4 linked regions of the Homo sapiens genome follow. The protein of the gene in region 2 interacts with the protein of the main gene of each other region in a pairwise test. Each region holds a gene or a part of one and is shown on either strand. Other genes may lie near its edges.

Evidence for each region.
Region 1: the proteins of SNX7 (region 2) and TEX11 interact in binary tests that used the Homo sapiens proteins (3 or more experiments, as listed by UniProt).
Region 3: the proteins of SNX7 (region 2) and ABI2 interact in binary tests that used the Homo sapiens proteins (3 or more experiments, as listed by UniProt).
Region 4: the proteins of SNX7 (region 2) and TBC1D21 interact in binary tests that used the Homo sapiens proteins (3 or more experiments, as listed by UniProt).

What each region holds. Positions count from the first base shown.
Region 1 is NC_000023.11:70,905,128-70,913,080, forward strand, and holds the start of TEX11 (testis-expressed protein 11), read right to left. Parts: upstream 3,585-7,953; 5' UTR 3,527-3,584; intron 2,684-3,526; 5' UTR 2,663-2,683; coding exon 2,626-2,662; intron 1-2,625. UniProt on the Homo sapiens protein: Regulator of crossing-over during meiosis. Involved in initiation and/or maintenance of chromosome synapsis and formation of crossovers.
Region 2 is NC_000001.11:98,685,280-98,693,126, reverse strand, and holds part of SNX7 (sorting nexin-7), read right to left. Parts: intron 2,053-7,847; coding exon 1,942-2,052; intron 1,593-1,941; coding exon 1,428-1,592; intron 1-1,427. UniProt on the Homo sapiens protein: Involved in the regulation of endocytosis and in several stages of intracellular trafficking. Together with SNX4, involved in autophagosome assembly by regulating trafficking and recycling of phospholipid scramblase ATG9A.
Region 3 is NC_000002.12:203,372,801-203,380,647, forward strand, and holds part of ABI2 (abl interactor 2), read left to right. Parts: intron 1-3,131; exon of another isoform or gene 3,132-3,215; coding exon of another isoform or gene 3,216-3,332; intron 3,333-7,407; coding exon 7,408-7,584; intron 7,585-7,847. UniProt on the Homo sapiens protein: Regulator of actin cytoskeleton dynamics underlying cell motility and adhesion. Functions as a component of the WAVE complex, which activates actin nucleating machinery Arp2/3 to drive lamellipodia formation.
Region 4 is NC_000015.10:73,868,740-73,876,909, reverse strand, and holds the start of TBC1D21 (TBC1 domain family member 21), read right to left. Parts: upstream 3,347-8,170; 5' UTR 3,201-3,346; coding exon 3,141-3,200; intron 1-3,140. UniProt on the Homo sapiens protein: Acts as a GTPase-activating protein for Rab family protein(s). Essential for the establishment of male fertility, and is required for both the production of normal sperm number and sperm function.

The sequences.
Region 1 (7,953 bases), on a different chromosome or scaffold from region 2:
GCCTGGGCAACACAGCGAAACCCCATCTCTACTAAACTACAAAAAATTAGCCAGGCGTGGCGGCATGCACCTGTAGCCCCAGCTACGCGGGAGGCTGAGTCGGAAGAATTGCTTGAACCCGGGAGGCGTGGAAGTTGCAGTGAGCCGAGATCGTGCCACTACACTCCAGCCTGGACGACAGAGTGAGACTCTGTCTCAAAAGAAAAAAAAAATCAGTCAATGTATTGAGGTAGTGAGTCATACCCAGCATTTCTTTTCAGTCAGACCTTTGCTGAATACCCAGCATTTTTTTAATGAGAAAAATAGAATAGAAAATATCATAGTGTACTGCATGTAATGAGGATAAAATTTTGTTTTATTAAACTTTTGACACAGTATGTATGTACTGGGATGTAATCAAAACATTTTCTTGCCATGAGTGGTAGTCAAAGATGTTTTTGAAAGTTTCTGTTAAACTCTCAGAAACACAGTGTTCGTTGTAGCATTGTTGTTTTTAACAGCAAATATTTGAAACCATTTTTATGTCCAACAAAGGAGACTGAATGAATAAATTGTGGTACATTTAGGTTCAATGAAATACTACTCATCAGCAGTGGAAATAAATGAACTAAAAGTATTCATATGGGTAAATATTAAAAACACAGCCTGGCACAGTGACTCACGCCTGTAATCCTAAGACTTTGGGAGGCTGAGGCAGGCAGATCACCTGAGGTCAGGAGTTTGAGACCAGCCTGGCCAACATGGTGAAACCCCGTTTCTACTAAAAATACAAAAAATTAGCCGGGCATGGTGGCACGTGCCTGTAATCCCAGCTACTCGAGAGGCTGAGGCAGGAGAATCGCTTGAACCTGGAAGGCAGAGGTTGCAGTGAGCCGAGGTCACACCATTGCACTCCAGCTTGGGCAACAAGAGCAAAACTCTGTCTCAAAAAAAAAAAAAAAAAAAAAAAAAAAAAAAAAAAAAATATATATATATATATATATATATATATATATATATATATATATCACAATGCTGAGCAAAAAAAGGAAAAAAGAAGACAAGCTGCAGGAAAAAGAAATATAAAATAACTATTTATATAAAATTTAAAAAGAAAAATGGTACATGTAATCTTTTAGTTCTTTGAAATATCTGAAGCATATGGCAAGCTTAAGATTTGACAAAACTCAGTGGTAGGTACACAGATGTTCATTATATTATTTTCTATACTTTTCTGTGTGATTCAAATATTTATGTAAATACAAAGTCTCAAATATTATCAACTTAAGAGTCATAATCCCTATTCCATCTTTATACCTTTAAGATATTTTATCCTAATTTAAAACTTAAAGTAGATAGTAGCAGGCTTTATTGTTATTGTTTTAAAATAACAAATATTGGCCTGGCATGGTGGCTCACACCTGTAATCCCAGCACTTTGGGAGGCCGAGGCAGGTGTATCAACTGAAGTCAGGAGTTCGAGACCAGCTTGACCGACATGGTGAAACCCTGTCTCTACTAAATGCAAAAAATTAGCCAGGCATGGTGGCGCGGGCCTGTAGTCCCAGCTACTTGGGAGGCTGAGGCAGAAGAATCGCTTGAACTCAGGAGGCAGAGGTTGCAGTGAGCCAAGATGGCACCACTGCACTCCAGCCTGGGCAACAAGAGCAAAACTGTCTCAACAAACAAACAAACAAAACAAGCAAACAAAAAAAAGTATTAACAAAATGTTGACCTAAACTTTTTAAAATCATAGATTTGTAGCCACATTTCTTACCACATATTTCATTATTATATGAATGTGAAGGTACCACAGGTCTCATTATTCCCCAAAAACAAAGATAGTACCACAAACTCTCCTATATCTAGCACAGTTGAGGAATCTGGTGTTCTGGTCAGTCAAATTGCTTTTGTTTATTGAGAGTTCCCATAAATAGCAAACATGGATTACCAATTTTCAAAAGAATTAAGACACAATAAAATGTACTTAAGTCTAAAACTACACAGGATATAATTTATTTTTCACGGATGATTATGGAAAGGAACTCCAAGATCTTGCAGTAATTTTTTAAACTTATTTTTATTGCAATAGATTTATCTTCCAGATTAAACGTTTTATTTTGCATGCCATAAAAATCCTGAAAAAAAAACAAGTTATGAATTGTGAATTCTGTCTCCCTACACTAGTTCATAAAAAGGTTCCCAATGTGTTAAAAATAGACATTGTTTCTGGTACATAAATGAGAAAACCTGGTGCTATGGACACTGCAGAAAGACAAAACTCAGAAACAAAATATTTAGATTTTTTTTTTTTTTTTTGAGACGGAGTCTCACTCTGTCGCCCAGGCTGGAGCGCAGTGGCGCAGTCTCTGCTCACTGCAAACTCTGCCTCCCAGGTTCAAGCGATTCTCTTGCCTCAGCCTCCTGAGTAGCTGGGATTACCACGCCCAACTAATTTTTGTATGTTTAGTAGAGACGCGGTTTCACCATGTTGGTCAGGCTGGTCTCGAGCCCCTGACCTCGTGATCCGCCCGCCTCGGCCTCCCAAAGTGCTGAGATTACAGGCGTGAGCCACCGCGCCCAGCAATATTTAGATCTTAAAGCAGCAGTTTGACACTATTTTGTACTACCACGTAGAGCTACGTACCTTTAAAGTCCATGGAAAAAAAATCATCATTGTCCATTTTTAAATCTCTGGCTCAAGCCTGTGAAATAATAACATATTTTAATACTCTGTTTTATCCTCTAGTTTCTCAACAAATTTCTTTCCAGTGAAATGTTTCCCGTTACTTGTTATCCAAAGGGAGAAAAAAAGGCTGAGTAAAGTTAAAAGCCCATGAAAGGGCTTTTGTGAGGGGCAGGGCCAGGCTGCCAAGTTACATAAAAGGGACCTTTTCTTACCATAAGTCTGCCTGGCAACGGGGGAAATGGAGCTGAGTGGTACCCTGTTATTGGTCTGGCTGGGTCTCGCTGCTTCTTCCTAATTGGCTCAAAATCCGCTTCCGCTACCAACCGCACATTCAAAGCATCCAATCACTCACGGTCCTTTTTCCCGCTCTGTGAGAACGCTAGCACCTTCAGTATCCTGCCCCCAACGGTCATGAACAGTCCTGCTTCAACGTAATTTAGGTCCTTCAGCATCTAAACAACAATAACTACTATCTCCGGTTTTCAGTGGCCCACCACAACTCCCCATACTCCTCCATCCTCATCAAAAAACATTACATTGCCCCCAACGGTCATCAACAGTCCCGCTTCAACGTAATTTAGGTCCTTTAGCATCTAAACTACAGTAACTACTATCTCCGGTTTTCAGTGGCCCACCACCGCTCCCCATACTCCTCAATCCTCGTCCAAAAACATTACATTTGCCCATCTTCGTTCGCCTTGAGAGCGACGAGCAGTTCTGTAGTACAAAGTCACTGCCTTAGGGCCGCTCTAAAAAGTTTTGGCCTAATGGCTATAATATATTCTTGCTAGTTATAAACTACCCAACTAACTTGTGCTTGAAGCCTATTCTACCCCTTCCTGCCCACTAAACCACTCACCTCAGCCGCAGCCACCAATGCCGCCCTGCTCTCTCCACAACCTCCGTCCACAGCGCACGAGGACGTTCAGAAAACTCCGCCCCCTAGCGACGCTAGCGGTGTCACGCTAGGCCACTAAAGCCACTCCCACTTGGCCTTTACGCTGTGTCACGGAGCCTAAGCCTTGCGACCCAGTCTAGACCTTAGATCCTGGGGATGCAGTTCAGAGAGTCAGTCACTTGGTGAGTTCAGGGTGAGAATAACTGAGAGTAAGCAAATATGATGTAATTCTGAAAGCATAAGACAATGAATTGAGGGAAAAGTGCAGATGGCCAGGATTACCAAAAGGAGAGCAGGACTTCACACACACAAAAAAAAGAACAGAAAAAGAAATAAAGCAAGTAGACATTGTTGATCACTGGTTATGCAAGAGTGGCAAAGGTCAGAAATAGCAGAAATATTAGAAGCTGAGGAGACTAGTCGAGGCCAGCCTGATCAACAAGCCAGACTGCACCTGAACCAAAAAAAAAAAAAAAAAATCCAGGTGTGGTGGCACACGCCTGTAGTTCCAGCTACTTGGGAGGCTGAGGTGGAAGGATCATTTGAGCCTGAGAGTTTAGGTCCAATAAGCCATGATCCCACCACTGCACTCCAGCCTGGGAGACAGCGAGATCATGTCTCTTAAAAATAAAAAATAAGTCGGGGGCAGTGGCTCACGCCTGTAATCCCAACACTTTGGGAGGCCAAGGCAGGCGGATCACCTGAGATCGGGTGCTCCAGACCAGCCTGACAAACATGGAGAAACCCCGTCTCTACTAAAAACACAAAATTAGCTGGGCGTGGTGGTGCATGCCTATAATGCCAGCTACTTGGGAGGTTGAGGCAGGAGGGAGAATCGCTTGAACCCGGGAGGCAGAGGTTGTGGTGAGCCGAGACATTGCACTCCAGCCTGGGCAACAAGAGCAAAACTCCGTCTCAAAAAATAAATAAATAAATAGGCCGAGCACGGTGGCTCACGCCTGTAATCCCAACACTTTCGGAGGCCGAGGCGGGTAGATCACCTGAGGTCGGGAGTTGGAGACCGGCCTGACCGACATGGCAAAACCCCGTCTCTACTAAAAAAAAAAATACAAAATTGGCTGGATGTGCTGGCGCATGCCTGTAACCAGCTACTCGGGAGGCTGAGGCAGGAGAATCGCTTGAACCCGGGAGGCAGAGGTTGCGGTGAGCCGAGATCGCGCCATTGCACTCCAGCCTGGGCAACAAGAGCGAAACTCCGTCTCAAAAAATAAATAAATAAACAGGCCCAGCGCGGTGGCTCACGCCTGTAATCCCAGCACTTTGGGAGGCTGACGCAGGCGGATCACCTGAGGTCGGGAGTTGGAGACCGGCCTGCCCAACATGAAGAAACTCCGTCTCTACTAAAAAATTACAAAATTAGCCAGGCGTGGTGACACATGTCTGTAACCAGCTACTCGGGAGGCTGAGGCAGGAGAATCTCTTGAACCTGGGAGGCGGAGGTTGCGGTGAGCCAAGATGGCACCATTGCACTTCAGCCTGGGCAACAAGAGCGAAACTCCGTCTCAAAAAAAATGAAAATAAAATAAATAAAAATAAAAAATAAAAATAAAAAAAGCCTTTTAGTTCCAAGACGTTTCTGTTGCCCTGCCTTTGTCCAATCATTAGGAAACTAGGAGACTCCCCTGCAGTCTCACAGCAAGCTCGCATGTCCCACCCATCTCCAAACCAAATGGCTTGAGGGGTGGAATATGTAAGTAAAAATTTGATTCCAGCTAAATCTAAGCATGATGCTAATCTCCACTCAGAGATAACAGTGTGAAAACATGATGCCTCCAGATTTGTAGACAAACACAGAATCAAAACATTAATAAGCCTCCCACTTCTTCCTATATACCCCTCTTTTAAGCCTTGTGCACCTCAGGCCAGATATGGAGCTGGCTAACAGGATAAAGAAGAGAGATTGTGGCTCCAGTTTCTGGGAACATTAACAGAGTTCCTTCCTGATCCTGAAAGTCTCAGAATCAGTCATTAGATCTCGTGGACAAGATGAGGTTACTAAAAGTAATTTATTTTCCCTCTTCAAAATTGTATCTAGATTGCATAGTACAATGAAGAAAAATGGGAAAACAGAAAGTACTGCTATTAATTCCTCTTCTTTTGCATCCTGCAGTTTGGTATGTCTTTATTTCATAACCCTCGATTGCCATATTAGGGAAAGAATTCTGGTGAAAAGGAGCAGTGGAGTATGCCACAGTTGACTGACTCTCCATGCACCATATACTGTGTGGCCTTGAGCCAGCTTTAAGAATCTTAGCATCTAAATTGGGCATGGTGATTCACACCTGTAATCCCAACACTTTGGGAAGCTGAGGCAGAAGGAATCCTTGAGCCCAGGAGTTCAAGACCAGCCTGGGCAACATAGTGAGACCTTGTCTCCATACAAAAAAAGATAATAATAATAATTAAAATTTAAAAAGAGGCTTAGTGCAGTGGCTCACACCTGTAATCCCAGCACTTTGGGAGGCCAGGGTGGGAGGATCACTTCAGCCCAGGAGTTTGAGACCAGCCTGGGCAAAACAATGAGACCACATCTCTAATTTTATTTATTTATTTATTTTTTGAAATGGAGTCTCGCTCTGTCACCCAGGCTGGAGTGCAATGGTGCGATCTCAGCTCACTGCAACCTCTGCCTCCTGGGTTCAAGAGATTATCCTGCCTCAGCCTCCTAAGTAGCTGGGATTACAGGCACCCGCCACAAAGCCCAGACAATTATGGTATTTTTAGTAGAGATGGGGTTTCACCATGTTAGTCAGGCTGGTTTCGAACTCCTGACCTCAGGTGATCCATCCGCCTCAGCCTCCCAAAGTGCTGGGATTACAGGTGTGAGCCACCGTGCCCAGCCTCTATTTAAAAAAATACGTATATATTAAAACAATCTTAGCACCTCAATTTCCTCATATGTACAATGGGAATAAAAGTAATTCTAGGCTTCTGGTTCAATAGAATAATGCACATAAAGCATCTAGAACAATGGGTGGCTGGCATATAGTAGTAGTCACTTAACAAATGTTAGTTCCCATTATCATTTCCCATTTCCTGGTTGACAAACTTCCTACTTCCATTATCCCACCTAAACCCCTGGTTCCACCATAGCTTCTTTGTTCATGGATGAACAGATGAACAAGTAAGGTGATAATTAGAACTCAGCTCTCAAGACTACAAGCAGCCCTTTCACATGCATCTTAGAGTTCTTAATGATTAATAACGTCTGCGGTAGAATGGATATTATACTATTCAGCATTATATAAGGCATATAGGAATCACATGATTCTATTGATGAATACCAGTTGTAAATATGACTCCAAAGTTAGGGCTACTGAGCTGACGCCAGTGCACTGAAAGGGCCAGTGAATAAAGGAAAATGTACGGAAAGGGTGAAAACCCTGATAATACATGGATATCTTCAAATTTTTTTTTGTTTGTTTTTATCCAGATGGCCTTCCTAGATGTTACAAGTAAATGAAAATTAAAAGAAACAGAAGAAAAAAGTAAAAGAGAGAGAAAAGGAGAGCAGATAAAAGAAGCAGGTACATATTGAGGTGGATAAGCAAGAGTGAGCAGTAAAATGCCATTAAGTAGCACTCAACATGCTGTGGATTATCTTCCTTTACCCTCCTAACATAAGCTATAAGTTTTCTGTCCTACCCTTTAACAAAATGTTACAGAAATGGTGAAATACATGGTACATAAGATGGTTGAACAGCTTGGACTCTAATGAGAGCCTATTAAAACTCTCATCAATAGAGTGGATTAAAAGACAGTTAGCAACCAAGAACACAAATTAGTTAATAAAGTAGCATTACGCCCTGTTAAAAGAAGAGAAAGACTTCCAGAATAAACATGCAATTACAGTCAGGAAAATTCTAAAAACAAAATCATTAATGGAGGGAGGAAGAGGAGCTTGTTCTTCCAGATATTAAAACTATTGCAAATAAAATTGTGTGGTAATAGTGCAGACAGATAAATGAACAGAATAGAGTCCAGAAACAGACCCAAATATACATAGAAATTATTGAAATCAGTGGGGCAAAGAATTATTCAAGAAAAAGTGTTGAAATGACTTTAGAGCCATTTGTTAAAAAAAAAAACTAGATCCTTACCTCTCATTTCATATACCAAAATAAATTCTACATTAATCAAAAATTAAATCCAATCATAAAATTTCTATTAAAAATAGGTGTGAATATCTTATAGCTTTATTAATATACTAAGACGTAGTAGTTTTTTTTTTTTAATTTTACCTAGTTGGCAAGATCTAAATATGATCTGGAAACCCAAATCAAAAAGGGAAAACAGTAAGTTTTACTGCATAAAAAATAACTCTTCTGAGTGGCACTATAAGCAAGGTTGAAAGACAAACCACAGAC
Region 2 (7,847 bases):
AAAAAGCCCTGATCCATTATTACTCAAAATAAAGTAGACCCTTGAACAACACAGGTGTGAGCTAAGCAGGTCCACACATGTGGACTTTTTTCAATAAATATACTGGAAAATTTTTTGGAGATTTGTGACAACTAAAAAAACCTCACAAACCACATAGTCCAGAAATGTAGAAAAAACTGAGAGAAAGGTATGTCATGAATCCACAAAATGTATGTGGATACTAGTCTATCATTTACTACCCTAAAATGTGTATAAATCTATTATAAAAAGTTAAAATTTATCAAAACGTATGCACATATTTTGACTTACATGCCACCATATGCAGTTGAGAGAAATGTAAACAAACATAAAGATGCAGTATTAAATCAAAACTGCTTAAAATTAACTACACTACACACTGTACTATTGTACTATTTTTGTAGCCCTCCTGTTGCTATTTGTGGTGAGCTCCAGTGTTGTGAATATCTGCTTAAAATGCCATGTGACGCTGATCATCTCCATGTGAGTAGTTCATCTCTCCATTAAATTGGGTGTAGCAGTAAAAAGTGATCTCTTGTGGTTCCCATGTATTTTTTTTATTGTGTTTAGTGCAATACTATAAACCTGAAATAATACCATGGGACCCATATGAAGTGCCACTAGTGATGCTGGAAATGTTCCCAAGAAGCAGAGAAAAGTCATGTCATTACAAAAAAAGTTGAATTGCTTGCTAAGTACCATAGACTGAGGTCTGCCACTGTCATTGCCCTCCATTTCAGACTGACAATTCATCTTGTAAACAGACAACATAAACTTGGTATCAATAAATACAGTAGAATACTGTTGGTATATTTTGTCTTCCTTAGGATTTTCTTAAATAACATTTTCTTTTCTCTAGGTTACTTTATTGCAAAAAATACAGTATATAATACACAAAAGGTATACATATGTGTTAACCAACTGTTTATGTTACAGTTAAGGCTTCCAATCAACAGGAGGCTACTAGTAGTTAAGTTTCTGAGAAATTAAAAGTTACACATGGATTTTCAATTTCATAAGGGGTTGGCTTCCCTAACCGCCATGTTGTTCAAGGGTCAACTACAGTGTCAATGAAAGAAATATATTTATACCTGTTCAGTATTTGCTATTTATGCAAGAAGCACCCTGACATAAAAACATTAGAGAGAGAGAGAGAGAGAGAGAGAGAGAGTGTGTGTGTGTGTGTGTGTGTGTATATATATGGAGAAGATACAAGATTTCTGTAATATTTATATGTAGATTTGACACAGGGTTATATCTGAAGGATAACTCTCCAGTGTTTCTGAAAAATTCCATCTCAATTCAAGTACACCACTGCATGATTTGTAACGGTAAACAAGAGGAACAATACAATCTACTATAGATACAGACACCCAAAGATTATATGAGTATAAATAAAAATCATTTACCCAAGCTTGTGCAGTGAGAAAAATTTTGAAGTCTTCATTAAATGTTAAAGTTGGATGATCAGCAATTCGGTTCAAAAATTTATGTAAAGCCTTCCTGCGTGTCTCAATGAAGTCATCGTTAAAGCGTTCCACCATTCCTTTTACTATAAACTTTTCTGGCAATGGCTAAGGCAAAAAAAATTAAAAAGGTATTCAAGTATTATTAGCCATAGGTTTATAAGCAATTCTACGCTTTCCCTGTTTGGAAGACTAGTTGAACATCTGATCATTTCTTATAAAAATAATTTTTAAAAATTCACAATGTTAGAACCAAAAATGAGAAATCATAACACATTATGAAGAGTTTTTTTTAAAAAAAAAATGTACATTGATTGAAACACTTAGAAATAAATATTATTCCTAAGATAAATGAATTACAGTGAACTTAAGGTCTGAAATTAGGTTTTAGGCATTCAAAAAGACTCACTAGAAAACTGGTAGCTATTCTATGAAAAAAAAAATTTTGCAAACTTACTGGAATAATCAGAGTGGGGTGTGCTTCTTCCAGTTTTCCCTTCAACCAAAGGAAATCTTGATATCGTCTCCTAACTTCAAATTCACTGGAGTCAAATTCCCCACGAGATGTCTGAAGAAAGTAAGAGAAAATAACAGCACATGCAATATAAGATAGAAGGTATTTGCCTAACGTTATTTTAGACATTGTGAAATAAATGGGTCTCTAAGAAAAATTAACACATCCTAATTATTCAGTGTTTGTCAGCCTGTAATTTTTTTCTTTTTTGTCATCTATTCATGTAGCAGATGAAATAAAGCAAACTTTCTGGTATTTCCAGAAAGAAAGCAAATATCATACTTAAATTTAAAATCCAAACTGAAAAATCTGTCTTACAACAACCATCTGCCTTCCACAAGATTTTAACTACTATTATCTTTGGCATGACTTTCTTGCTAACAAGCAAGTGTGTTCTGAATTTAGGTTTCAAATATATTTCTTTTCTCAAGATGATTAGAATTCAGAATTTGAGGAAAGTCCTATTTTTGCAATTTGGAAAATAACCTGAATGTAACTGAGAAAAATGTTTTCTTGGAATTTGCTCAAATGAATTGCTGTGCTAGGATTTGCTTTTAGTATATGAAAATTCTAACATTTTAGAGTGATTTTACCACTGTTTAAAAAGTAATTAATAGACATTTGATGTGAAAAGAAAATCTTCCTGTCATTTCTCAAAGAATTTTATTTTGGGTTATATGCCTAAACTCCTAAAAATTAAGCAAATACATTAAAATATCTGTTCTCAACAAACCAAAAATCCATGCCAACACATATGACAAGAAGAACATGGGTACAATATCAACCTCATTTCTATTGCCTGAGTCCCAAGCCAAAGATAAAAATATGAGTTATCTAATGTACACTCACCTCTCATAGGAAAACAGTCACTCACACCAATACCTTATTTAACTGAATTTTTGCATATTAAAAATTACATGCAGTAATATTTAGGTTGAAATTTTCCTGCAGAAGTAAACATGGAATAACACATTGCATATATATTTCACACTCACCAGAAATATCCATCACCCACACAGATGTACACAATTGTAAATTAAACAGTCCAAGTCATAAGATGCAATCTTCAATGTCATAAAATAAGGTCCATGAAAGCTATACTTTCCAAAGTTTATTCTCTTAAAATGAATGTTCAGAATATCATACAATGTATCTTTGTACAACATTCCCTTTATAATGGGAAAAAGTGGGAGCGAATGAAATGCAGAAATCTAAGAAACTAAATGTTCACAAAACACTACAAAATCTTAACTATTATGCAACATGGTACATGATATGGAAATGGTAAAAACAGGAAAACTATATCAAATACCAGCACAGTTTAATAATATAGACTGGTCAGTGTATGTCCATATGCAAATAGATGCATGCACACATACATATGCACCCAAAACATGGTTTAGAGTAACTCATTAAAAAATATTACTGAGCATCTCCTTGTACCGGGTACATACGTACAGGTCCACTACCAATTTCTAAGAATATAAATTGCCATAACGAACAATGAAGCACTCAAAAGAAAAAAACCAGCAGTTAAAATAAGATTGAGCTGTATACGTCCCTAAGAATATCCAACATTTTAAGTAAGCATAAAACAATCTAGTATAAATTCCAGTAAGAAGATATAAAATCAAGTCAAATAATTGGTTCAGTCTATCCTCATCACTCTGTCACTGACTCAAAAGAATTCTCTAATGTAGTGCAACAGAAGAAGAAAACAGAGGATAAGTGCAAGCAACGAGAAGAATATGTTATTTCTTCCTACTGTAAGATTTCATTCTTCTCTTGAAGGGTTGTAAGAGACACATATGTAGGAATATGATAAGGAAAACAGTCATTATCAGCAGGGTTTGGAACAAGACTAATTTCCCTACAGCAAGTAATAGAATCATTGTCCCTTCTAAAGTGGACAAATTTGATCACTGTAAGATGTCGCAGTGGCTCACGCCTGTAATCCCAGCATTTTGGGAGGCCGAGGCAGGCAGATCACGAGGTCAGGAGTTCGAGACAAGCCTGACCAACATGGTGAAACCCCATCTTTACTAAAAATACAAAAATTAGCCAGACGTAGTGGCACGCACCTGTAATCTCAGCTACTCAGGAGGCTGAGGCAGGAGAATCACTTGAACCCAGGAGGCAGAGGTTGCAGTGAGCTAAGATCACGCCACTGTACTCTACCCTGGGTGACAGAGCGAGACTCTGTCTCGAAAAAAGAAAAAAAGAAAAAAGATGCACAAAAGCTTCCAAACAAAAGCTTCCAAACTGTAGAAATAACTGGGTTTGATAACATATATCCAACTTAGAAATATCATGTATTTCATAAAGTGCATTTGGAGTATAAATAATGCTTCTAACATAGAATACAGTTTTCTATGGAAGCAACATTGAAAATGCTGGCCAATTTTTCATGTTTGACCATAAAAGCTTGGGTATTTGAAGTTTAGTACTAATGAACTTGTGTGATCTCTACCCCCAAAAGCATTTATTCCAAAAATACCAACCTTCAGTCAAGTGTGAACAGTTATTCTAAACTCATTATTTAGAAAACTTTTTTTGAGGGAAAATGAAACTTAATAGTCAGTTCAGCCAATCAAGAATACAGCTTAACTCCTAACTATACAATGACAGGCATTTATAGGTTTGTTTTCACAAAGAGGAAGTGGAAGGAAAGTACCTTGTTAAATCTCTTCATTCTTACTCTTATATGTACTAAGAGAACGTACATCTTTAGATCTCCAAAAGAGAAAATACTTCTCTATAACAGTCACTTAAAATATGCTAACCTAGACAACAAAGGGTAATTTCCCATAAAAAGAACAGATGCCACAAATGTGGTCTTCCCGATACAATCATTCACAGTTGGATCATTCTTAAGTATTCCTAAATAGGTGATTGTCCATGTATGTATGTGTATATTCATTTACCCTTACAATCCTTAGTACCCATGAATATAAATATTTACAAAACTAAGATTTTCCCAGGAAAGCCATCTTTCAACCTCCAAATTAGATGGTGTATCCCATGCTCATAATATCCAATATTTTTCCTTCAAAATATTTATAACTATAAAGAAATTACTTAGTATATGATATGGTTTGGCTGTGTCCCCATCCAAATCTCATCTTGAATTGTAATAATCCCCATGTGTCAAGGGCGGGGCCAGGTGAAGATAATTGAATCATAGGGGCAGTTCCCCCATACTGTTTTCATGGTAGTGAATAAGGCTCATGATATCTGATGGTTTTATAAATGGGGGTTTTCCTGCACAAGCTCTCTCTTGCCTGCTTCCATGTAAGATGTGTCTTGCTTCCCCCTTGCTTTCTGCCATGATTGTGAGCCCCCTACTCCAGCCATGTGGAACTGTGAGTCAATTAAATGTCCCGCCTTTATAAATTACCCAGTACTGGGTATGTCTTTATTACCAACATGAGAACAAACTAACACAGTACAAAATTAATTATTTAATATCATCATATGCAAACACCCCTTCTTCAGAGTGAAAACACCAGGAAAGCAGAAAGTTCCTTTTGTCAGACCTATCCTGATCACTGATATATTCTTAATATATAAGCACAATACTTGGGACAAACGGGGTACTCAATAAAACTTGTGGAATAAGTAAGTAAATGATAATAAGAAAAGACTATTTGATAACATGATCTACATGTACTATTTATATATTTGTATCTGTAATATATATTTCTGTATATATAGATATAGTCTATATACTATGAAATAGTAAAAGTAATTAGAAGTAGAACAATGGAAGTCATTTATAATAGTTAAACTGAAAGTTTACCACATCCATACCTAAATGCACAAAAATATAATAGAAAAAATGTATACTATGAAAGTAAACTGTTTGGATTTAAATCCCAGCTCAGCTAATTACAATGTTGTGTAACCTTTAACAAGCTACTAAGTTTCGGTGTCCTCGTGCATGAAATGGGGGTAAATCATAATATCTACGTTTGAGGATTACTGTGAGCCTAAATGAGTTAACATGTAGAAACTGGTTAGAATATTACCTGGCACAAAGCAGTCACACAGTAAATGTTTGCTAGTTTATATATTTTCATATTATTATTACTACTACTATTACTACTTCTATAAGACCAGTCCATTTAAAGTATGTGTAAATAGAAAAACTCAGAAGAGCAGTATGTCTATGATCAGAATGAAACTCACAAGGTGGCTTTAGAAAGAGTGTCTTTCTGAGAGACGCAAATGATGGAAAAATAATTCAGTTTCACAAATTATTTGCTAGAATGGATAATGACAATAGATAATTATAACAGTAGTAATAGAAGAAATTTGGCTCTACTCTAGCAGTATGCCTGTATTAACATATTCAATCTTCATAAAGACCTTATGAGGTTAGTACTGTTATCCTATTTACAAACAAGAAAACTAATATAGAGAGGTTAATTAAATTGTCCAAGTCACATAGCAAGGAAGGAGAGAAATCAAGATTCAACTCCATGTTGTCTTGCTCTACCACATCTTGATATAGCTAAGATAATTCCTTCACTCATTCATCAACAAAATAAATAGTTTACTTATTATGTCCTAAGATTTGTGTTTGGAATTATGGATAACTTAAAATATAGTTACCTTCCTTGAGAAACTCACAAACTCACTGAGAATAAATACAAATAAACATCTATTCACATACAGGTAGATGGCAATTACTGAACACTTATCGTGTGTTAGGCACTTTACTAAGTGGGGTGTGCATTGATTACTTATTCTACTGCAACCCTACAGAAGTGAGTTCTATTATCTCAGTTTCATTGATTTAAAAAAACAGCTTAGTTGGATTAAATATATGCTTTTGATATTTTGCTATATTGACTCTTATGTTTTACATTCCTTAAGAGTTCAATAGAACAGTATGAGAAAACAGAGGAAGAATAACTATTTCAGCCAGGGGACAGTAACAACTAGAGAAGCTTTCACAGGCATCTAACATTTTGAGTTGTATATTGAAAACTAAGCATGACTTCTTCTGTCTAAGAAGGGGATGGACACAGCAAACAGAAGGAAAACTATATGCAGTTTTGAGAGCAAGAGATCCCCTAAATATTCAGAAAACAGAAGCAGCTCTACCTGAGTGGAAAGCAAGGTACTGAATGTGAGGTGTAACAAATAAGTCTTATATGGTAAGTGGGCACCAGACTGAGAAGCCTCTTTATATGTCATACAAGAAAGTCGGCACTTTGCTCTGCCTGAAATAAGGGGCCAAGAAAGGATTTTAAGAATTCAAGTGAAGAAATAAGATATATATATCTTCAGGAAACATAACTAATAGCAGTGTGGCAGTTTCATTGGAAGAAGTGATTATAGAAACATAGTTCAGAACTTTTTCAGCTAAAAAAAGAGATGTACTTTTTACATTTATGAAATATAAAAGTCTAGGGTGACGCTTCATAAACAAAATATTATAAAGAGAATTATTTTCAAATGCTATTAAATAAAGGACTTAAAATACAGATTATACTAGGTGGTTGCTTAATTGTGTCTGAGGTAAATTGTCTTTGTAGCACTTCGCCCTACGATTAAAGAGATCTGTGTTCTAGATCTACTTTGCTCTTGAATTATTGCACACATAACAGTATCTCATACATGAGACAAAGTGGCCACCTGTCCCACTTTGAAAAACAAATGGTACCATATTTTATAATCTTCCAAAGAAATCTGAATACATAATATTGCGAACTGTTTAAGCATTTTCTTTTTTTATTAACAACTTGAGGCCCATCTTTTCCAAAGGTATTTCTTAATACTTTTTTAAACTAAAAACCTAGATATTCTTATTCTAAGAAGTATAGCTGCTATAAAATGAGTGA
Region 3 (7,847 bases), on a different chromosome or scaffold from region 2:
CCGGGCAGAGACGCTCCTCACCTCCCAGACGGGGTCGCGGCTGGGCGCCCTCATATCCCAGACGGGGCGGCGGGGCAGAGGCGCTCCCCACATCTCAGGCGATGGGCGGCTGGGCAGAGACGCTCCTCACTTCCTAGACGGGATGGCGGCCAGGAAGAGGCGCTCCTCACTTTCCAGACTGGGCAGCCAGGCAGAGGGGCTCCTCACGTCCCAGACGATGGGCAGCCACGCAGAGACGCTCCTCACTTCCCAGATGGGGTGGCGGCCGGGCAGAGGCTGCAATCTCGGCACTTTGGGAGGCCAAGGCAGGCGGCTGGGAGGTGGAGGTTGTAGCGAGCCGAGATCACGCCACTGCACTCCAGCCTGGGCACCATTGAGCACTGAGTGAACCAGACTCTGTCTGCAATCCCGGCACCTCGGGAGGCCGAGGCTGGCGGATCACTCGCGGTTAGGAGCTGGAGACCAGCCCGGCCAACACAGCGAAACCCCGTCTCCACCAAAAAAGTACGAAAACCAGTCAGGCGTGGCGGCGCGCGCCTGTAATCGCAGGCACTCGGCAGGCTGAGGCAGGAGAATCAGGCAGGGAGGTTGCAGTGAGCCAAGATGGCAGCAGTACAGTCCAGCTTCTGCTCGGCATCAGAGGGAGACCGTGGAAAGAGAGGGAGAGGGAGACCATGGGCCGTGGGGAGAGGGAGAGGGAGAGGGAGCGGGAGAGGGAGAGGGAGACTAAACTAAAATTTTTCTAAGCGAGGCCCATCTTTTTTCTTTGCTAGTAAAATTAGTCAGTACTTATCCATGTTCAAGTTTGTCATGGCTTAGAAAAAAAGATTAAGCAAGGTCAAAAGGCAACATAAAGAACTTAAGAAAGTAGTGCTCTTCCCACCTTCCCAAGGGCTGAGTAGGACTTACTGGGCCAGGTGTTAAATTAGTTAGCAGGTAACAATTAAAGGAGCTGGAAAATAATTATCATAAAATAATATAAAATTGGAAGTAATTCTTCTCAAGAGCTAGGTATTGAAAGGCAGTGGCCTTAAGAACTCAACAAGTAGGGTAGCTTTTACTGTCTAAAAACTTTAGGCTGGGTGTGGTGGCTCATGCCTGTAGTCCCAGCACTTTGGGAGGCTGAGGCAGGCGGATCCCTTGAGGTCAGGAGTTTGAGACCAGCCTAGCCAACATGGCAAAATTCCATCTCTCCAAAAAATGCAAAAATTAGCCAGGTGTGGTGGTGCACACTTGTAGTCCCAGCTACTCAGGAGGCTGAGGCGGGAGTATCACTTGAGCCCAGGTGGTCGAGGCTGCAGTGAGCCATGTTCATGCCACTGGATTCAAGCATGGGCAACAGAGTGAGACACTGTCTCAACAACCCAAAACACAAAAACTTTATATAGATAGCCTTGCTTAAGAATTTCTAATTTTGGCCAGGCTCCGTGGCTCACGCCTGTAATCCCAGCACTTTGAGAGGCTAAGGGTGGCCGGATCACCTGAGGTCAGGAGTTTGAGACCAGCCTGGCCAACATAGTGAAACCCTGTCGCTACTAAAAATACAAAAATTAGCTGGGTGTGGTAGTGGGCACCTGTAATCCCAGCTACTCTGGAGGCTGAGGTAGGAGAATTGCTTGAACCTGGGAGCGGAGGTTGCAGTGAGCTGAGATCGTGCCACTGCATTCCAGCCTGGGTGGCAAAGCGAGACTCTGTCTCAAAAAAAAAAAAAAAAAAAAAGGAATTTCCAATTTTAATTAAGGAGATACACTGAAGGTTATCAATACGTAATTATGCATAGAAAGTAGACTTTTTATACTTCCCAATTAATTTCCTATGTAGTTTTTATATCACTTTATATAAAAAAACTGAAAATTACTCTGTTAGTAACTAATTTGTTTTATGAATGATACATAATTTGAAGCATAATTGTAATTTAAATGTTTATTTGAAACATTAGCTTACTAATAAAAAAAATTGAGACATATTTAAAAACACCCAATTTAGTTGGGTTAATCCACTGTAACTGTTTGATTGCAGATGTTTTCCCACACTGATGGGCAGCTAACTGAGGTAGTGCTATCCAGTACAGTCAACTTTCAATTATCTGTGGTAATGGGAAATGACAATGCATGGATAATCCTAAAACAAAATATTTTATACAGTACCTTCCTGTCATCTGCTGTGGCCTGAGCATGTGCTTGGGTTCATGAGGGAGATGTGGGAGTGGGGCTCAGGCTTGCAAAGGAGCTGGGAGTCAGTATGATTATCTCAAGGCCATAAGAGGTATCCTTAAGGAACCTGGGTTTGGCACTGTGTGGCTGAAGTGTCATGGGGAAAGCCTGCAGCATGCAAGATCAGCTTGGCAATATCAGTGAGAAGGATGGGGAAGCTAATTAATAAGGAACTGTGGGAGAATAGTTGTTTATTAAGTCCTATACAATTGCAGTGATATATCTTGGTGTGTTTTTTGGTTAATGGGATCTGTAGCAAACAATAATTATATTAATTGTGTATTTGAATTAGTTTTGGTCATCTTTGATTGCTAGCAGAACACATTTTTTACTTGCCACAGGTGAGTGCTGTTATTGAGGTCTCTTCTAAATAAGTAGGTTTATTGTCATATAACTAGTAACTTAAAAAACCCAGAATAAATTTGAAATACTTTTCTTACTTTTAAAATTCATCCTAAATATCAGTGTTGAACTTGTACTTCCAAAATTTAACTTAATGAAATTTAACATTGTAATGTCAAAGAATATCATGAGGGCAAATGCCATAATTACTGATACTGTGAATTTGATGTAGGAAAAATATAGTAGCCATATTTTATTTAAGAATATGTTACAGGAGCTTTCCTAAATTTCTTTTACAACTGACAATTGTCTACGAATTTATGAATGTTAAAGCTGCATGATAGATGTGAGGAGGGAGTGTTTATTATTCTATCTAATTTGAATATGCTTATTTTCTACAAGTGAAAGCTATAAAAAAATTGAAGCAGATGATTGCTGAAAACCTTAGAATCTTCTGGACCAACCTGAGAATCTTCTGCTTGTTTATGAAATAGATTTAGTGCTCTCTGTCAAATTATTCAAACTCCAAATAGAACCGTAGCCATTTTCTAAAGGCATGTTTTCTTCTGCCCACAGGCAATACTGCAGTTCAACCCCGTGTGGTAGTATGATGGCAAGAATGCAAATTATACCGTTGTTAGATTACCTTTATTATTATAGATGTTTTTTAAAAGTTATTTACTTAAAATATCTATACTTAGGCAAATTAGAGGCGTTGATCTTGAGTCGACTTTTGTGACCAAATTTGGAAACAATTGCAGTTTGAGATTGAATGAGGTAAGGGACCAGCTAATTAGTCCTTCCTCTATAGATCTTTGGTTCTCAACCAGGGAAGTTTTGCCCCCAAGGGGACATTTGGCAATGTTAGACATTTTTGGTTGTCACATCTCATGGTGGGGGAGTGCTACAGTTATCTACCTGGATGCTTTTCTATATTCTGCAATCCTCAAGACAGCAGCCTTCACCCCTGCCCACAACAAAGAATTATCAAGCCCAAAATGTCAATAGTGCCACTGTTGAGTTACCCTGCCCCTAGTGTTTCTAAGATGTAGGCATTCTTTGAAGTAGACAATTAAAAACATCATATAGCCAAACTAAATTATTTTGACTTTCTGTATACTTATGCTGTTTAAAAAACATGCCTTCAGTTTTTACTGAGATTTGATATAAAAAGCAACAACAAATATATTTTTAAAGAATTTAATCCTGGGAAACATTTCACTTTCCTGATGAATTGATATATTTCCTCGTAACTCATTATGTTTCTATTTTGCCTTCTCTCCCTGGAGGCTTAGTGCCAATTTTTTTGCTCTATTATAACAATGACCCTTTATTTTAGGCTTATTGTTATCTTTCTATTTACTGTATTGGTCTTCCCTTTTTTTTTTTTTTTTTTTACTGTTATGGTCTATGGGTTTGGGCTAAGTGTGTGTTTGTGTGTATATGAAGAGAACATGTGGGTAATATGTAAATGTCCCCAATCCCTAGACCAAGTCACATCTCTATAAGATCAAATGAACAGATTTCTAATTTATATTTTAATGCTTTTTTAAAGTCTCAATTTTTCAAACAAGAAATATGTGCTTGTTATAAAATATTACTGTGTGTTAGTGTAAATAATAAGTGGAAGATTACTTCTCCCTGTTCATTCTCTGGAGATTTATTAATATTTCTAGTATGTGCCAGGCATAGTGGCTCATGCCTATAATCCCAGCACTTTGGGAGACTGAGGCAGGAGCATTGTTTGAGGTCAGGAGTTCAAGACCATCCTGGGCAACACAGTGACATCCCATCTCTACAAAAAATAAAATTAGCTGGGCATGGTGGTACATGCCTGTAGTCCTAGCTACTCAGGAGGCTGAGGTAAGAGGATGCTTGAGCCTAGGAGTTCAAGACTACAGTATGCTATGATTGTCCCATTGCACTCCAGCCTCTGTGACAGAGTGAGAACCTGTTGCAAAAAAATGTATATTTATAGTATGCAGATGTGAAATAGAAGCTATAAGCTTGTAATTCTGTTATGGCTGCTCAGGTTTACACTCTTATAGTTTCATTTCTGAATAAGTTAAGTACATTTCTAAAAACTGAGGAGAATAAAAACAATGTCTTGAGGATTGTGTTATCTGATGAACCTTTTATTGATCTGACGAAGACCCATTTTATAAAAAAAGTGTCATATTTTATTTTTTGAAGCATACTTGATGGTATGAAATGGTATTTCTAGCCCATACTTTTAATGATTTAGAATGACTCACTAAACTTTATTCAAGGCCAGTACATTGGCTTACTCCTGTAATCCCAGCACTTTGGGAGGCCAAGGTGGGTGGATCACTTGAGCTTAGGAGTTCAAGACCTGCCTGGGCAACATGGAAAAACCCCAACTCTACAGACAGTAGAGAAATTAGGCCAGCATGGTGGAACACGCCTGTAGTCCCAGCTCCTTAGGAAGCTCAGGCGGGAGAATCATTTCAGCCTGAGAGGTCGAGGATGCAGTGAGCCATGATCGGGCCAGTCCACTCCAGCCTGGGCGACAGAGTGAGATACTGTCTCATAAAAATAAAATTTAATCCAAATGTGATTAATTTCCATTTCTCTAAAGTTAAAAATTAAGTGAATTCCAATATCATCACTAATATGCAAGCTTAACTTTTCTGTTACAGTTTTCCCAAGCAGTTGAAGAGGAAAGCTATTCTCATAATTAGCCTAACATGCGTAGAAAAGTTTAGAGATTATTTTTTTTCTTTTTCTTTTTCTTTTCTTTTCTTTTTTTTTTTTAAGATGGAGTCTCGCTCTGTTGCCCAGGCTGGAGTGCAGTGGCACAATCTCGGCTCATTGCAAGCTCTGCCTCCTGGGTTCACGCCATTCTCCTGCCTCAGCCCCCCAAGTAGCTGGGACTACAGGCACCCGCCACCATGCCCGGCTAATTTTTGTATTTTTAGTAGAGACGGGGTTTCACCGTGTTAGCCAGGATGGTCTCGATCTCCGGACTTTGTGATCCGCCCACCTTGGCCTCCCAAAGTGCTGGGATTATAGGCGTGAGCCACCATGCCTGGCTGAGATTGTTTTTTTCTTGAATACTTAAAATTGTAAGATTACTACCATGGTTAGTTTTTTATTTGATGTTCCATTTATACATTCGTTAGCTCTGGAACATATAGATCCTGTTGTTTTTAAGGTCTCTTGGTTGTAGAGAAATAAGAGGCTTTGAATTTGTTTCAGGCTTACCTCATACTTGAGGCAGTTTAGAAGGATAAATGATCAGTGTTCAGATTTCTTAAAGCAGTATTTTATAATGTCATGATGATTATCTTTTCACTGTTACTACCAGGTTCTTTTAGAAAGGGGAAATTGAAGTAGGACATTGAAGTGGGACTGGGGAGGAGTTAGCAAAAAATGTGTCTGTTGATTGCTGCTTGAGCCAGGAATTGGTGGTAAGAGATGTGAACCATTTTAGTGAAGTGATTTTTCAAACTCTTTTGACTGCGACACACAGGAAAAAATTTTTTTTACGTTGTATTCAGCACATAATTCATGTATATATTTATATATATAATAAACAGACTTTTCAAGAAACAGTATTTTACCTTACTATGTGTACATGCAGTCTGATGTTTCTGTTCTATTTGATTTGAAATAATTGCTGCTTACATACCACTAAATTGCAGCTTGCAGTTTAAAAAATTTTGCTTTAGTGTACTAATTACCTGTGTATGTGGAGAAATTCACCCTCTGTTAGCAAATAGAAGATTGTAATTACAATACATTCTTACTCGTATGTCTTATGTGAGCATTTAATAAATATAAATAAATTAATGAAATATTTTACAGGCATTTTGTCATGATAAAATATAAGCAGCTTTGCCCAAGCAACTTGGTCTTTTGGGGTCAAAAAATGGCTTTTTTGTTTTTTGACACAGGGTCTTGCTCTGTCACCCAGGCTAGAGTGCAGTGGTGCATTCATGGCTCACTGCAGCTTTGACCTCCTGGACTCAAGCAGTTCTCTTATTTCAGCCTCTCAGTTAGCTGGGATTACAGGCATGTGCTGTCATACCCAGCTACTTTTTGTAGAGACGGGGTTTCGCCATGTTGCCCAGGCTGGTCATGAACTCCTGGGATCAAGCAATCTGCCCACCTTGGCCTCCCAAAGTGCTTGGATTACGGGCCTGAGCCACTGTGCCTGGCTTTATTTTTAACATTATATTTCAGCCCTCTTTCTTTTTAAATAAAAAGATGTTTAAACATGAATAGAAATTATACTAATAGGTCATTAGAAATGTAACTAGATTAATTTCGGGGGCTTTCTTAATCACTATATTAGTCTAAATCTTAATGGAGAGGGAAAAATTAGCATGCTTTAACCCAGGGGTTGGCAAACCTTTTCTGTAAAGGAGCCAGCTAATATATACTTCAGTTTTTGTGGGCCATACCATCTCTGTTGTGGCTCATCTCTGCCATTACAGTGTAAAGCCTAGACAGATAAGCAAGTGAGCGGCATGGCTGTATTCCAATAAAACTTTACTTATGGAAAAGCAAATTTGAATTTTATATAATTTTCACGTGAAGGTTTTTTTTGGTTGTTCTTTTCTCCAAACATTAAAAAATGTAAACACCACTCTTAGCTTGTGGGCTGTAAAAATCAGATGATGGGCCAGATTTGGCCTGTGGGCCATGGTTTACCAGCCCTTGCTTTAACCTAAAAATGGAGAAAATCAGTAGTCCAGAAGAATAAAAATTTAGCAAGCATAGTTTAGAATATGAGTAGCAATATTAAATCTCTAGGCATATATATTTTGATTTTTGTGGATATTAGAACTATACATTTTTGTGTTGTTTTTTACATTATATTTTGCAGACAGTTGATATTCATAAAGAGAAAGTTGCAAGAAGAGAAATTGGTATTTTGACTACCAATAAAAACACTTCAAGGACACATAAGATTATTGCTCCAGCCAACCTTGAACGACCAGTTCGTTATATTAGAAAACCTATTGACTATACAATTCTAGATGATATTGGACATGGAGTAAAGGTAGGTATAATTTTTTTCAAGCTTTTAAAAGTAGTAACCCATAATGAAACCAACTCTTGAGAAAATTAAGCTTTTTATCTGTCTTTCTTTCCTAGAGGACAAAGTCTTGGCCCAGTTGTGGTTGTGAAGATTCCTTGCTACTATAACTGTTTTACCCTTTTTGCTTTTTCTTAGTGATGTATTCTCAAGTTTTAAACAGTCATCTTTGAATGAATTATATTTGCTTGGTTATGATAATACCTCCTATGGTTTGAGTAAATAAG
Region 4 (8,170 bases), on a different chromosome or scaffold from region 2:
CAGTGGGAAGGAATTAAAAGGCAAGGATTTTCCACTCAAATAAAAAATATGTATCTTACACAAGCTGTGAACAAAAGAAATACCTTAAAATCAAATGCCCTACAATGATTAAAAAATAAATGACGAACAAAGATACGAAAAAAAGTCAAACACAATGGAGAGGTAATATTGAAATTAAAGTAATATGCACCGCACACCGTAACAAAAGATACAGCATCAACGCAATAAGGCAGAAATAATTAGAAACATCACAAGAAGACATCTGTTGAGTATTCAGAGAATTTGCATTTCTAAACCTCTACCTGTAACAATTGGCCATCTGCCTACTTTGCCGTGGTTGAATTTGTTTATAAAAAGTCACTGCTTCGGCCGGGCGCGGTGGCTCACGCCTGTAATCCCAGCACTTTGGGAGGCCGAGGCGGGTGGATCACGAGGTCAAGAGATCGAGACCATCCTGACCAACATGGTGAAACCCCTTCTCTACTAAAAAAAATACAAAAAAAAAAAAACAAAAATTACCCGGGTGTTGTAGTGGGCACCTGTGGTCCCAGCTACTTGGGAGGCTGAGGCAGGAGAATGACGTGAACCCAGGAGGCGGAGCTTGCAGTGAGCTGAGATCGCACCACTGCACTCCAGCCTGGGTGACAGAGCAAGACTCCGTCTCAAAAAAAAAAAAAAAAAAAAAAAAAAAAAAAAAAAAAAAAAAAAAACCCACAAAAAAAGTCACTGATTCTTCCTTCTAGGAAACTCCATTTCTCTACACCCACCAGTTCCCTGTATCTCTCCAAACTTCAGCAAACTATAGGCCACCCACAAGACTATCTCAGACACTTGCTAGCAAGCCAAGGACCAGAACAAGAAGGCTGTTGACCCGCAGAAGGCAAAGGGGGAAATGTCACTTAGAAGCCCTCTCTCTACATGCACACCACCTACCTGCCTATGCTAGAAATCAGAGAATGTGTATCTGGGCTCCTTTAATGTGACGGAGATTGTCAACACAGTGGCTTCTCAAATCAACCTTCATCTTCCCATATTCCTCTGTTCTTTGCTCAACCAACCTAATAACACCCTTTTCCATACACTGGGTATAATGACCTGGTAATCCGGGAGGGGAAGTCTGCAGTTTGCGAGGGGGCTGGATACCCTCCAGCTCTGCAGTGGTGCCTTTCCTAGTGTCCTGGGAAGCGTACTGCTAGATAGAGCAGCTATGGAAATCTCCCACCTTCAGGGTGTATCTAGGCAGGTTAAAGTTCTACATCAGCAAACCTGAGGAAGCCTTGGCCATTCTTCCCCTGGGGAAGGGGACCAGAAGTGGGAGCCCTAAGTGGCTCAGTCCCTCTAAAAGTTTCCTGCTGCTAGAGGCCTTGGCTTCAGGCATAAATCTCCTCTCCCCACTGCATCATTGGGTTAGGGGTTTTCTCCCATATTTTCAGTAAAAAAAGAAAGCCTTTGGAGGACAAGAAAAACTTTTTATGAGGGTTTTAATGCCAAGTTTCTCTGAATACTCATAGCCACAGAACCTCCAATAAAGCCCAGGGAAGGTCATTGACTTTGCTTAAGCTTCCCTCCCTCCCTCCCTCCCTCCCTTCCTTCCTTCCCTTCTTCCCTCCTTCCCTCCTTCCTTCCTTCTTTCTTCTTCTTCTTCTTCTTTTTTTTTTTTTTTGATGGAGTCTCACTCTGTCGCCCAGGCTGGAGTGCAGTGGCGCAATCTCAGCTCACTGCAACCTCCACCTCCCTGGTTCAAGTGATTCTCCTGCCTCAGTCTCTTAAGTAGCTGGGATTACAGGGACTCACTACCACGCCTGGCTAATTTTTTGTATTTTTTAGTAGAGACAGGGTTTTGCCATATTGGCCAGGCTGGTCTTGAACTCGCGACCTCAGGTGATCTGCCCGCTTCGGCCTCCCAAAGTGCTGGGATTACAGGCGTGAGCCACTGCACCTGGACAGGTTCTCTTTTCTACTCCAGTTCACCTGAGGACAAGATAGACTCCCAACCGTAACAAGGGGTTCCCACTTCAGCAATTATTACCAACCCAGGTGTGGAGGGTGTATCATCAGTACAGCACCGTGATGAAGAAAATGGTTTAAAACAGTGGTTCACAAAGCTAATTGTGCATCACAGTGCCCTGGAGGGATGAGTTACAAAAAACACAGATCTCTGGGCTTCGTCTCCAGTTTATTGGTTCAGAAGATCTGGGGCCCAAGAGTCTGCATTCTTACAAGTTCCCAGTTGGTGCTAATGCTGCAGGTTTGGATGCCACACTTTGAGAATACTGAGTTTTGCACCCCACCTGTCTGGGTCGAAATACAACTTCTGCCACTTAACAAGCTGTGTGACTGTAGGCAAGTGACAAAGTCTCTGTGGCTCCATGTTCTCATTTATAAAAGGAAGACAACAGCATTATTCACTTCATAGAGTTGTGATGAGAATGAATGACTATAAATAAAGCATTTAGAACATTCATCGTACATAATAAATGCTATGTGACAGTTTATTTTATTAGCCTTCTCTAAGCTCAGAGAAATGAGAAAGATATAAAGAAAATTTAAAGCAAGGCCTGGTGATAATTTGCCATAAAGCAGTAACATTTAAAACTCAGGGAGAGGAGTGTCCATTTTGCATTTTTATGTATCACTCTCTTAATCACTATGATTAATGAGACTTAAGATTGGCTAAAGTTATTGTAATTAGTTATGATTTTGAAAAAATACCGTGTGGAAAATTTTTATGACTGAAGCCGACTTCTAACAAATAGCTGTATCTTGTAAACTGGGTTTAGAACTACCTACTAACAAAAGCATTACTGCCACCTGGTGGCAGTATACCAAAATTGTTGGCAAAAAGCACCGATGAAAATCTATCAGCATCTTCAGGTTCGCACCTGCAAACCTACAACTCAATAAAGTTAGAATAGCACATATGTGGAGAAGGTTTTGCTGGCTTGGAAAGAAGGTGAAAGGGGGCTTGGATGTCTCAGTCCTGTCCTTGGGCTGATGGTAAGAGTAAGGTACAACCGCCCTTGCTCCACCTTCTATGTTAGCTCAGGGTTCTAGCTTTTCCTACCCAGCAGGGGAAAATGGTCCCAGTGCCAACCAGAGGCTGGGGAGGGAGGCACTCAGAGCTGACAAAGAACACGCACCAGGATGAAGGAGGCTGACTGTCTGGCAGAGAGGCTGTTTTCAGGAGAGAGGGTGGTCATGGCCCCTGCTGTCTTCCGAACAGCCTCTGATCAGAACTCACTTGGAGCCCTAGTGATGCTTAATCCTTTTCGGAGATGGGTTGCATTCCCAGGAGGAACTGGCTGCTCCTGACCTCCCACACTTGAACAGAGCCGGCCAGCAGTGTGTCACAAGTCCCCTGGAACTCTCATCACAATGACCTGGAACACGGGAACACCCACCTTTAGAGATGAGACACAAGCAGGAGAAGAGGGATTAAACCTGCTAGTTTTGGAAAAAAAAAAAAAAAGGAAAGAAAAGAAAAGAAAGAAAGAAAAACAAAAAACAACAACAAACAGAAAAATGCAAAACTGCAGAACACGCAGTGGAGGTTGGATTCAGAGGACATGGGGATCAGTGTGGGCTGTGCTGGTCAAGGAGGGCTTCCAGGGAGAGGTGGGCCATGAAGCCTTGCTCTCTATCTCTGACTCTTCCTCTGGACTCTCTTAGCTGGACTCCCTCCCTATTCCACCAGACCAGTGCCCAAAGTTGGAGAATAACTAGAAACCAGGCTTCAGATGTCTTGGGTACCAGTTATAAAGATTCAGAATCAGTATGTCAGTGCTGGGGCCTGGGGGGCTGGGGAATGTGTTTTGATATGCCTCCTGGGGTGACTTAGCTTCAGCATTGGAATGGTAGCTTCTGGGGTGGAGATCAGTTTTGTTTAGCTTTTTATTTGGAGCACTTACGATCGTGCCTGAGTAGCTGAGTTAATGATTTAATTGAATGGGAGAATAAATGAAGCTGTCTTAGACCTCATCTCACTTCCCTCTCTGTATGTATGACAGAGATTTGTGCCTGCCCCATATCACCTCCTACCCTGAGTTCCTTTAGGCCAGGGTCAACATCAGATTCCTCTGTGGTTCCCTCTCCCAATGCCAGTTCTGCCATCACTTGGCACTTGGTAGGTGCTCAATATTTGTTGCATGGACCCAAGGAGTTGGCTCTGCTTGGCTCCAGCATCACTCTTCTCCACCTTAAGCATTGCTTGCACTTCTACTCAGGTCCCATCTGGCTCTAAAGCATCCTTAGTCATTAGGAGATGATAGTAATTCGACCAACCAAATTGGAATCAGGAGCTGGGTGTTGGAATTTGGACTCTGACCTCAAATTTGGATGCTCCCCGCTTCTGAGCTACAGATTCCCCAGACATGAAATCAGAATACAGTCAACCTCTGGCTTTCACCTCCTTATTAACATAATGAATCACTGTCCATATGGAGTCTTCCACGGACACAATTCATTGTCTCATTTACTGTTTCTGTTCTGCTTGCCTGCGGCACTGCAGAAGGCCTTTTAAATCAAAATGCCTTATTATCGGCCTCTCTCCTCTACCCACTACCCTAGCTCAACCTAGGAGAGAGTTAAGAGCCTCTTCCCTTTGATCTACTGCCCCTAGGTCTTCATGGAGTGGGAGGTGGGCAACGTTGAGTAGGGAAGGTGTGGAGTAAGGATGGGGCCCCTTGCACATTAGGGTGGCTTCATTCTAAGGTCTGCAAGAAGTTTCCAAAGCAAATGTTTAGAGCAAGAGACATAGACATCATTTAGGATTATCTATGTCTCTGTTCTTCCACATTAACCACGTAGGCAACTGAGGATTCACTGCAATTGTTCCTTGAGAAGATGAGGATCAGGTCGGGAATTGGAAACATCTGAGGGCTCAATTCAACCTGGCTTCTAAAACGAACATGGTGAACATAGATCAACTACTGAACTTCTTTTAACCTCTGGCATCCTATCTGTGAATTGTAGGTGATAACCCTTCCCCAAATGAGCCAATACAGTTTAGTCATATTACAAAAGCCCCATAGCAACCACATGGAGGCTTAATATTCAAACAGAACTGCAGGACTCTGTAACGGAAGCAAAAAGGGCTTTTATTCCATCCCTCTTTCTTCTTTTTTCAGATTCTGAAAGGGAATTACATGTGTCCATTTTTTTCCAGGGCTGAATGATCCTTACCATGTCCATTTATTTACATAATTGCCCAAGTGCCTTGGTTTCCCATATATTGCTTTTCTGTTATGCATTTTCTCATCTCTGATGGGAATCCAGCTTTCTGCTTTAAACTTCTATACGTGAGGATTCTTCAGGGAAAATATTATTTTAGGTGTTTGCATTAAAGAAGTCCAAGGAGGGAGAAACCCACTCAGTTCATTTTTCTCTGCTGAATCTGGCTGTCCATTAGCTGATGTGGCTGGCATGAGGAGGGAGAGGAGACTTGGAGTGGCCTGGGGAAGACCTCTCATCAATGAGAAAGCTCATAGGCTTTGGTGCCAAAAAGACCCGGTTCAAATCCTGGCTCTGCTGCACACCAATGATATGACCTAGGTTGAGAAAGGCAGTCTCATGCATGTGGTTTTTTAACCTCTGCTCAGCCCCATACAAGTGGCCTTGAGCCAAAAACACTTCCTTACCAACAGATAAGGAGCTCTCATAGCTTGTGCTGGGCTTATCGCCTTACGTGGGAATATCTTTTTCCTGTTTCAGACTCAGCGTGTACTCTTTGTTCTGCTTAAGCTTGTGCGTCATGTGGCAGGCACCTGGCCAACCCCACTGTTATATCTGTTCCAGGTGGGGAGGAAACAGGGTCCACCCGCTGCTGCACAAGAGGGGTGTGTGCAGACCGTCACCTTGTGTCTGCTGTAGCAGGAGACCCCTGGCCATGCGGGACTGAACCCATGATTGCAGCTGATCTTACTCTGTCTCTTCTCTGTGTGAGTAAAGTGTTGTTCCATCTAGTGCCTGTGTGAGTCGTGTCTTTCGTGGCGACACCTATAAACCATGGAGTGGGCTGACATCCTGGTTCTGCTGCTCCTGGTGGCGGGCATTGTTGTGCTGTTTGCCGTCCTCTACACAGTGCGAATCTTCTCTACCCTGCCCGAGTCTCGGCATCTCCACATGTGCCATGAGGATGGTAATGCTTTACAGAACTGAAGGTAATTGAAGCATGGCCCTGGAGCGCAGGAGGCACCCAATGTGTGGTAGTTATTATTATCTTCAGCATCGCCAGTATTATTACTAATGCCTAGGACTTGTCCACAAAAATCACTATGAAAATTTACTTCTGTGAACTAGACTCACATCAAAATGCTGCCTGCTTCCATGAGGCTTGTAGTGACATCCATGTACAAGTTCAAAGACCCTCTGAGCCAATTTCCACTTCTCTGCATGTCTCTGGGGACCTAGGGGACCAGGATTACTATAAAAGCAGGTAAGGCCAGTATTAAAAAGCAGGTTCACTCCAGTTCCCTTCATGTCAATGCAACAAGACACAACTTTGTGAAATGCCATGCAACTGTATCCCTGTTAACAAGTATCAACCCCTTCAAAGGATACCTACCCATGACTGTCTCAGTCTGCGGCACTCTAGATCTTGATAGAAATCACACGCATTCTGATTTTATTTCATTGCAAAATGCCAAGGATCTTCCATGCCAAAGCTGCACTTTTCTCTTTACCCCTCTTTGTGGAGGACCAGGGTAAGTTTAGATTTTTGGCTTCAGGCTTTCTGCCCTCAACTCCATGGAGCATGGCATTTCTGACAATGCTGGAGATGGCTGCACGTCATGTGTCACTAGCGTGAGGATAGCAGGGACGGGGAGTGGTGGAGACAGCTCCCTTCTGAGCACCAAGGTAGTTGGATTCCCCAGAGCAATAACCAGCCCAGTCACCCTAGAAATCCCCTAACCTAGTTGGAGGGCTAAGGAGTTACTGCACTTTGGGCCATCTCTAAGGTCTTGGGGAGCCCACCTCCTAGGTAGCTCTCTTGCATTCCAGAAATAACCCATAGGAGCAACTCTGGACAAAAGAGGGACACTCAGCCATGGGCAGCTGAGGCAGAGCTCCTGACTACTCTTTCCACCCAGTCCTGCTCCGTGAGGGGTCTTCCTCATGGTTCTACCTGTCACCTGTCCCCCAGCCCAGGCTCCTGGGTCACCACCAAAGCAGGTAGCTCGGACTCACCAAGCCCAGGCTATGCCTTTCCTGCTACCCATGTCTCCTGTTCATTTAGTCCCCAAGTCTCCCTCTTGCCTGTGGACCTCCCCACCACAGCTGCCTTTTACTGGGCACTTGCTATATACCTCCGGTGAAGTGCTTTACCTAAGTGAGTGCCAGCCTTGAACACTATGAAGTCAACAGAAGCTCAGAAAGGTTAAGTAACTTACCTGGGATCATCCAGCCAGAACATGGGGAGCCAACAACCTTCCTAGCTCTGCCTAGCTTTGCCACTAGCCAGGCCGTCACAGTGTCACGTGGAGCTGCCTCCCCCTTCCTGTTGGCAGTGGTGGGCATCGTGGAGCTCCTAGCTGGCTCAGGGGACTGTAATCCTACAGCCCAGTGGGGAGGGGGGGGAGTTTGCTATAACTCCCTCTCCAGGTTTTAAAATAGTTATTCAGTCTAAAAACAGACTATGTGGTGCTGGTTGGAGGTGGGGGTGGGGAAGTATTGCAACCTAGATTATAAAGATGATGGAAAGAGTGAAATGGAGAGGAAAAAGGACAAGAAACTCCAGCAAATGCCAGGGACTGCTAATGGAGAGAAATAACATGGCTAATTACATCTCTGAAGGCTATCCATTCCAAAATAAATGTTTAATGAAAAAATAATGCATTTTCCCTGCAACTTAAATCTGGGAGTGAAGAGAATGAGCAGAGTCTCCCAGTGGGCACTAGAGTAGCTGTGCATGTGCAGGGTTGCCTCTGACCGTCTCACCTTGATGAGTTGCTTCCCCAGCGTCCTCATCCTGAGGGTGACCACACAGCAGTCTTCCCAGGGAAGCCACAGGAGTGAGCCATGGGAACCTCACACACCAAGCAACTAGGCTCCAGGACACCAGGGGCAGACCAAGGTCTGTAAATCCAACTCCCTCCCCCACCAAAGCTTGCGATGTTTCTCTCCAACAGCTCCAGGAGGCCTTCTCTGGTTATTTTCCTCCGCCCACCTCTCC